2 linked regions of the Homo sapiens genome follow. The protein of the gene in region 1 interacts with the protein of each later gene in a pairwise test. Each region holds a gene or a part of one and is shown in the gene's direction. Other genes may lie near its edges. The genes, in order: CFAP141 and NME7.

What was found.
Region 2: the proteins of CFAP141 (region 1) and NME7 interact in binary tests that used the Homo sapiens proteins (3 or more experiments, as listed by UniProt).

The regions. Positions count from the first base shown.
Region 1 is NC_000001.11:154,198,585-154,200,959, reverse strand, and holds the end of CFAP141 (cilia- and flagella-associated protein 141), read left to right. Parts: intron 1-371; coding exon 372-501; intron 502-1,431; coding exon 1,432-1,533; 3' UTR 1,534-1,875; downstream 1,876-2,375. UniProt on the Homo sapiens protein: Microtubule inner protein (MIP) part of the dynein-decorated doublet microtubules (DMTs) in cilia axoneme, which is required for motile cilia beating.
Region 2 is NC_000001.11:169,294,498-169,298,528, reverse strand, and holds part of NME7 (nucleoside diphosphate kinase homolog 7), read left to right. Parts: intron 1-4,031. UniProt on the Homo sapiens protein: Possesses an intrinsic kinase activity. Displays 3'-5' exonuclease activity with a preference for single-stranded DNA. Does not seem to have nucleoside diphosphate kinase activity.

The DNA.
Region 1 (2,375 bases):
ATAATCCCAGCACTCTGGGAAGCCGAGGCAGGTGGATCACCTGAGGTCAGGAGTTCGAGACCAGCCTGACCAATATGGTGAAACCCTATCTCTACTAAAAATACAAAAAATTAGCTGGGCATGGTGCCAGGCACCTGTAATCCCAGCTACTTGGGAAGCTAAGGCAGGAGAATCACTTGAACCTGGGAGGCAGAGGTTGCAGTGAGCCAAGATTGCACCACTGTACACCAGCCTGGGCAACAAGAGTGAAACTCTGTCTCAAAAAAAAAGAAAAGAAAAAGAAAAAAGAAACAGCCTCACTCTATGGGTTTTTTGTCTCTACTCCTAACTCTAACCCACCCATTCAACCCCCACCTCTGTACCTGGAGCAGGTGGCGAAATTCACATACTCACTGTCTGTGGCAAATGGCATTGGGCCAGAGAAGAAACCCGTATGCCACCCTAAGGATGCAGGACACCATGGTACAGGAATTGGCACTGGCCAAAAAGCAACTACTAATGGTGAGTTCTAGCAGGGCAACCTGAAGTCTCATTCACTACTGCTGTGTGCCTTTGCCCATTGAGTTTTCCAAGCTCTTAGTGTGTGTCATTGCACATTTATCTTGTTTGCCTCTAGGTTTTCAGCATTACACCAGAGCAACACAACTCTAACTCCATTGCCAAAACTCTTTTTCATTAAGTGATTCTTTGCATCCACCTTACAGGCGGCAGGCACATGTTAAAGTCCCAAAGTATACTCTAGTTCCTGCTCCTTTCATCTTGGTGAGACTCAAAACTGCCTCTTAGATCGGGTGTGGTGGCTCAGGCCTGTAATCCCAGCACTTTGGGGGGCCAAGACGGGCAGATCGCTTGAGCCCAGGAGTTCAAGACCAGCTTGACCAACATGCCAAAACCACCTCTCTACTAAAAACACAAAAATTGGCCGGGCATGGTGGCACTTGCCTATAATCCCAGCTACTTGGGAGGCCGAGGCACGAGAATCACTTGAAACGAGGGCAGAGGTTGCAGTGAGCTGAAATTGTGCCACTGCACTCCAGCCTGGGCTACAACGTAAGACTTGGTCTCAAAAAAACAAAAAACAAAAAAAACTGCCTCTTAGTGCGTATCACTTGCCTCTCGGTACCTCTCTCTCTCCCGGGGTCCCCACTTGGTGCCATGTAACCATCTTTGTATCCCAGTTACTTAGTAGAGTTCCTGTTTCATGGTCTGTTCTCAGCAAATATTTGCTGAACATAGGGCTTTGCCTGTGGAGAAAAAAATTGGATAGGCTTCCCTCTGCTGGTTCAGCCTCTCTGCTACCACCCAGCTTTATGTCACAGCTAAGTCCAGCTCCAAGAGAACACAAATAATGGGAAAACAACTAGGAAGAAAGAATAAGAAAGGGTGGTAAACAGAGGCAAACAACACACTCTATTCTGCCCTCTCCACCAGGTCCGTCAAGCTGCCCTGCACCAGCTGTTTGAAAAGGAGCATCAGCAGTACCAGCAGGAACTAAATCAGATGGGCAAAGCTTTTTATGTAGAGAGATTCTGATGGCATCCAAAACACTGCTCTTCCATTCTCAACATGCCTGCTAACCTAGCCTTCTAGAACCTCTACCACCTTGAACCTCCTTCCCAAAACATACCTGGATCTTGCTATCTGTCAGGGACTTAAGACAGCACTTCCACTCTCACTTCTCCACTCTCTCGTTAATCCTTTGCCGCTATTTGGGAAACAATCTATGAAACAACAGTAACAACAAGAGTGACGCCTTGTGGTCATAGTGGGATTTACTATGTTGATGTAAGGGGGCAGGGGTGGGGAGGGGTGGACAATGAGAGTTGAGAATCCTGATTTGGTATAACAAATAAATTTACTTCCTAAAGGCTCAAACTTAGACCACTGGGCTCATTCTTTCATGTCTAAATCTTGATTTGTTTCAAAAGTGCTTATTTTTCAGCTACTGTAATCTTAACCTCCTGGATTTCACTTGCCATCTCTCAGATATCACTTTCACTTATCTTTTATTTATATTTGGACAAATTGTTCTGAATGTGGCTATTAATCTACAGACACCGTAGTGCTTGAGTGAGGAGGCCTGCATTTTGGGTTTTGAGTCAGCTAGTTATTGTGAAACTTTGGACAAGTCTCTTTCCACTGGGCCTGAATTCCCACCTATGCCAAGAGAGAGGATTCCAAACTTAAATGTCTCCAGGGGTCAGGCAGGTAATGTTACAGTTGTAAGGAAATAAGGAGTGGTGGGATTTGTAGGGGGCTGGAAAGAGCAGTCAAAATAAAGGCACTCAAAATTCTGAAAAATACTGAAAAGTACTGATTGACCATGTGCATCATATGAAGGCCATAGACAACTTTACTTACAAGGGTTCACTTTA
Region 2 (4,031 bases), about 15 Mb from region 1:
CTCTTCTAGTTCTGTTAAATGTTTTATATCAAAGGAAAGCATTTCTATCACTGGTGACTTAGGGTGGATTTATGCTGCTGCTCTAGTAGTAGAGAAAACCTTTGACATCTTGCCTACTATCAAACAGTGATTCAGTGTGTCTCCTTTGTGAACTGGTAACCTGATCATGATCAACGTAAGTTTTCTCCAATTAAAACACTTCTCATCCTGTTTCTTGTTCCCAAGACTTAAATTACTGAGGCTCCTAAATGTTTGAATTATTGAATTCATGTAAGAATACCAGTTTATGGCTAGTAGATATTAAAAAGAAGATATAATTTGAGATATTTCCTTTTGATTCAGACGTAACACTGTGCTTTCAAGCTTAACATCCTATTATTTTCCTATATATAGCTAGTGTTTATGAAAGTTTCTCTACTCCTTATTTTTAAATCCATATAAATAAAGCATTTATTGGATTTATACTGAGGTTGAATTAAAGAAGTGTAAGTTTATTTTTAGCATCGTGAGAAGTGTCTCACTTAAGGTAGTTTTTAATCTGGTTGTGTTTGCAATGAAACAATATTAGACAGTTTTATAATTGATTTCTTTCTTTTTCCTACCATTTCATCAGCAAGTCCCTTCAGCTCTTTCAAAATAAACCCTGAATCTGATCATTGTGGTCTGAATCACTATTATATTTTGCCAGAACTGCTACAATAGCCTCCAAATTCTTTTTTCCTCTTTTCTTACACTCAATTAATGAAAATTTTACCTTACCCAAGTAAAATCAGCTATGCCCAGTGATCTTTTAAAGACAAATCAGATTAACATTCACCTGCTGAAAACCCTTCAGTGAATTTCTGTCTCTTCTAGAATAAAATCTAAAGTCTTTATTGTGGCCTCCAATGCTCTATCTAGTCTGGCCCATATCTATCTCTAACTGTATCTTTGATCAATCTCTATCTTAATCATTGTGTTCCAGGCACACTAACCATCTCGCTATTCCTTGAATAGCATATTTCTGTCTGGAATGGTCAACTAACAGCAAAGAGGACAGTGTGGTTGGATAGGAATGAGAGAGGGAGGAAGAGGGTGATGAGGTTACAGAGGTAATTAGGGGAAAGATTATATGGTCTTATAGGCCGTAGTAGTACTTTTAGATTTTTCTCTGAAAAAATAGAGAGCCATTTTAGGGTTTTGAACAAAGGACTGATATCTTCCACTTGCCATTTAAAAGGATCATTCTGGCTGTTGCATTAAGAATGACTATAGAGGCTGGGAGTGGTGGCTCACACCTGTAATCCCAGCACTTTGGGAGGCCAAGGCGGGCAGATCATTTGAGGCCAGGAGTTCGAGACCAGCCTGGCCAATATGGTAAAACCCTGTTTCTACTAAAAATACAAAAATTAGCTGGGTGTGGTGGCGCCCACCTGTAATCCCAGCTACTCCAGAGGCTAAGGTGGGAGAATTGCTTGAACCAGGGAGGTGGAGGTTGCAGTGAACTGAGATCATGCCACTGTGCTCTAGCCTGGGTGACAGAGTGAGACTCCATCTCGGGGGAAAAAAAAAAGAATGACTATAGAGGGCAAAAACAGCAACAGGGAGCCTAATCAGGAGTCTGTTGGAATAACCCAGTGAGATGATGGCTTGGACCTGGGTGGTAATAATGAAAGAAGTATACAAATATATTTTAAAATATATATTAACGGTTGAAGGTCAAATAAACAAGATTTTCTGCTAGATTGAATGTAGAGTATGAGAAAAAGATACCAAGTATTACTCCAAAGTTCTTAGCCTGATTATCAGAAGGATAGAATTTACGTAAACTGAAATGAGGAAAACTGTGGCTAGAGTCAGAATGAATGGACAATCAGGAGTTAACGTTTTGGACATTTATAAACTTAACCTGTTTGTTAGTTTTCCAATTAGACTGATGAAAAAAATTAGTGTGACAGCTTAGAGTTATCAGCACATAAATGGTATTTAAAGCCGGGAGACTGGTTGAGATTACCAAGGAGAAGGTATAGATAGAGAAGTAAAGAGGACCAAAGATGAAGCTACATCTTGATAAAAGGTAAGGAGAAGAAGGCAGCAAAGGAGGTTGAAGAGGAGCCACCAGAGAGGTAAGAGGAAAAACTGAGAGATAATTATGTCCTGGAGGCCAAGTGAATCAAATATTCTAAAATGAGAGAATGACCAGTGGTGTCAAATAAGGCAAGTAAGAAGAGGACTAAGAATGGATTGTTAAATTTTGCAATGTGGATATCATTGGTGAACTTTGTAAGGTGAATGTTGATGGGGAGGTGGAGGCAAAACCCTGTGTGGAGTAGACTTAAAAGAAAATTGTGGGACGGGAATTGTAGTTAGTGAATATAGACAACTTTTTTTTTGAGGAGTTTTTTTGAGGAGTTTTCCTGCAAAGAGATGAGGTGGTAGCTGTCAAGAAAAGTAGTATCAATTTTTTTTAAGAGGAGAGGTATTGGGTAAAAAATTGATGATGTAGGAAAAAGAGGAAGACTTGTTGGAGCAATTTCATTAATTAGGCAAAAGGAAATGGAAATTAGAACCCAGGTGGAGAGATTAGGCAGGTGTGCCTCTCAGGTACTCGTCTATAGCAACAGATGGGAAGGGAGAATATGTGAACACAGATGCTGATTCTTAAGTAGGAAGCAAGATCAAAACAGCTGAAAGTGAGGATGAGGTATAAGGTATTGGTTGGTCTGAAGGGAGAGAAGAATATGTGAAATGGTGATCTGGAAAAGGAATAGATCAGGGAAATGTGGTGTGTGATTGCTATACTGAATTAATGGCCCATGTAGTGTTCATGGCCATGAACTATGAGTGTGGTTCTCCAGCCTGTTCAACTGCATGGCTGAAGGTAAGGAGTAGGTGGAGAGCTGGCTTTTAACCATGGCTGTGGTTTTGTGAAACAAATGTGACGGAAGTGTTAAGGAAGTTAAAGATACATGCAAGAGAGCAATTATAGTCTTTGACCATATCTTAGTAGTAGACATTTATTGTAAATGTGGTATTGTTTTGTATAGTTAAATTTCCAATCATATTTTAAAGCATTATAAAAATAATAAACATATCTAATTAATGAAGGAAATAATTGAGGCTGAACTGAAAGTCACTACCATGTTTACTGATATTTCCTGCCTATTTCACCCTATTACCACCTTATGCCATCCATTTCTTTTTTATTTCTACTAGATTATTTAATAAATTTGAGCATAAATATACTTGTTAGATTTTAGCATATCTTGTAGTGGAGCAACTTTTGTTAAGTTAGCTACTGTCTCAGTCCATTTTGTGTTGCTGTGAAGGAATACCTGAGGCTGGGTCATTTATAAAGGAAAAAGGTTTATTTGGCTCATAGTCCTGATGGCTGGGACATCAAGATTGGGCATCTGCATCTCGTGAGGGTCTCAGGCAGCTTCCACTGCCTGAGGTGGAAGGTAAAAGGGAGCCTGCGTGTGCACAGATCACATGGTAAGAGAAGAAGCAAGCCACCGGGAGAGGTGTCAGGCTGTTTTTAACAACCAGCTTTCAGAGGAACTAATAGAGGGAAAATTCGCTCACCTTGGAGGGAGGGCATTAATCTATTCATGGGATTTACCCCTACTATCCAAACCTCCCATTAGGCCCTATCTCCAACATTGGGGATCAAATTTCAACGTGAGATTTGGAAGGAACAAACATCCAATCCAGAGCAGCTACCATTGCCATTTCACCTAAAGAAATGTCTTAAACATATTCGTTTATATTTTGTGCATTTAATTTTTTTAACCTCTTTCTGCCATTAGTTCCTGAAATATCCTATTATTTGTATGAACCCTTTAGGATATATATTTTTTTACCCTTGTCTGGGGAAGAGTGAGTGTTGTTGACATTATGTTAGGTGGCTCTAGGAATTAAGGAAAAATATTGTAGCTGGAAAATGAGCTTATGTGAAGAAGCAAAGACCACAGGTCTTAAAAAATTGAAAAACATCACAGCCCCAAACTTATGCAGCCCCAAACAGCCTCTTCTTTACCTTGAATTCCTAT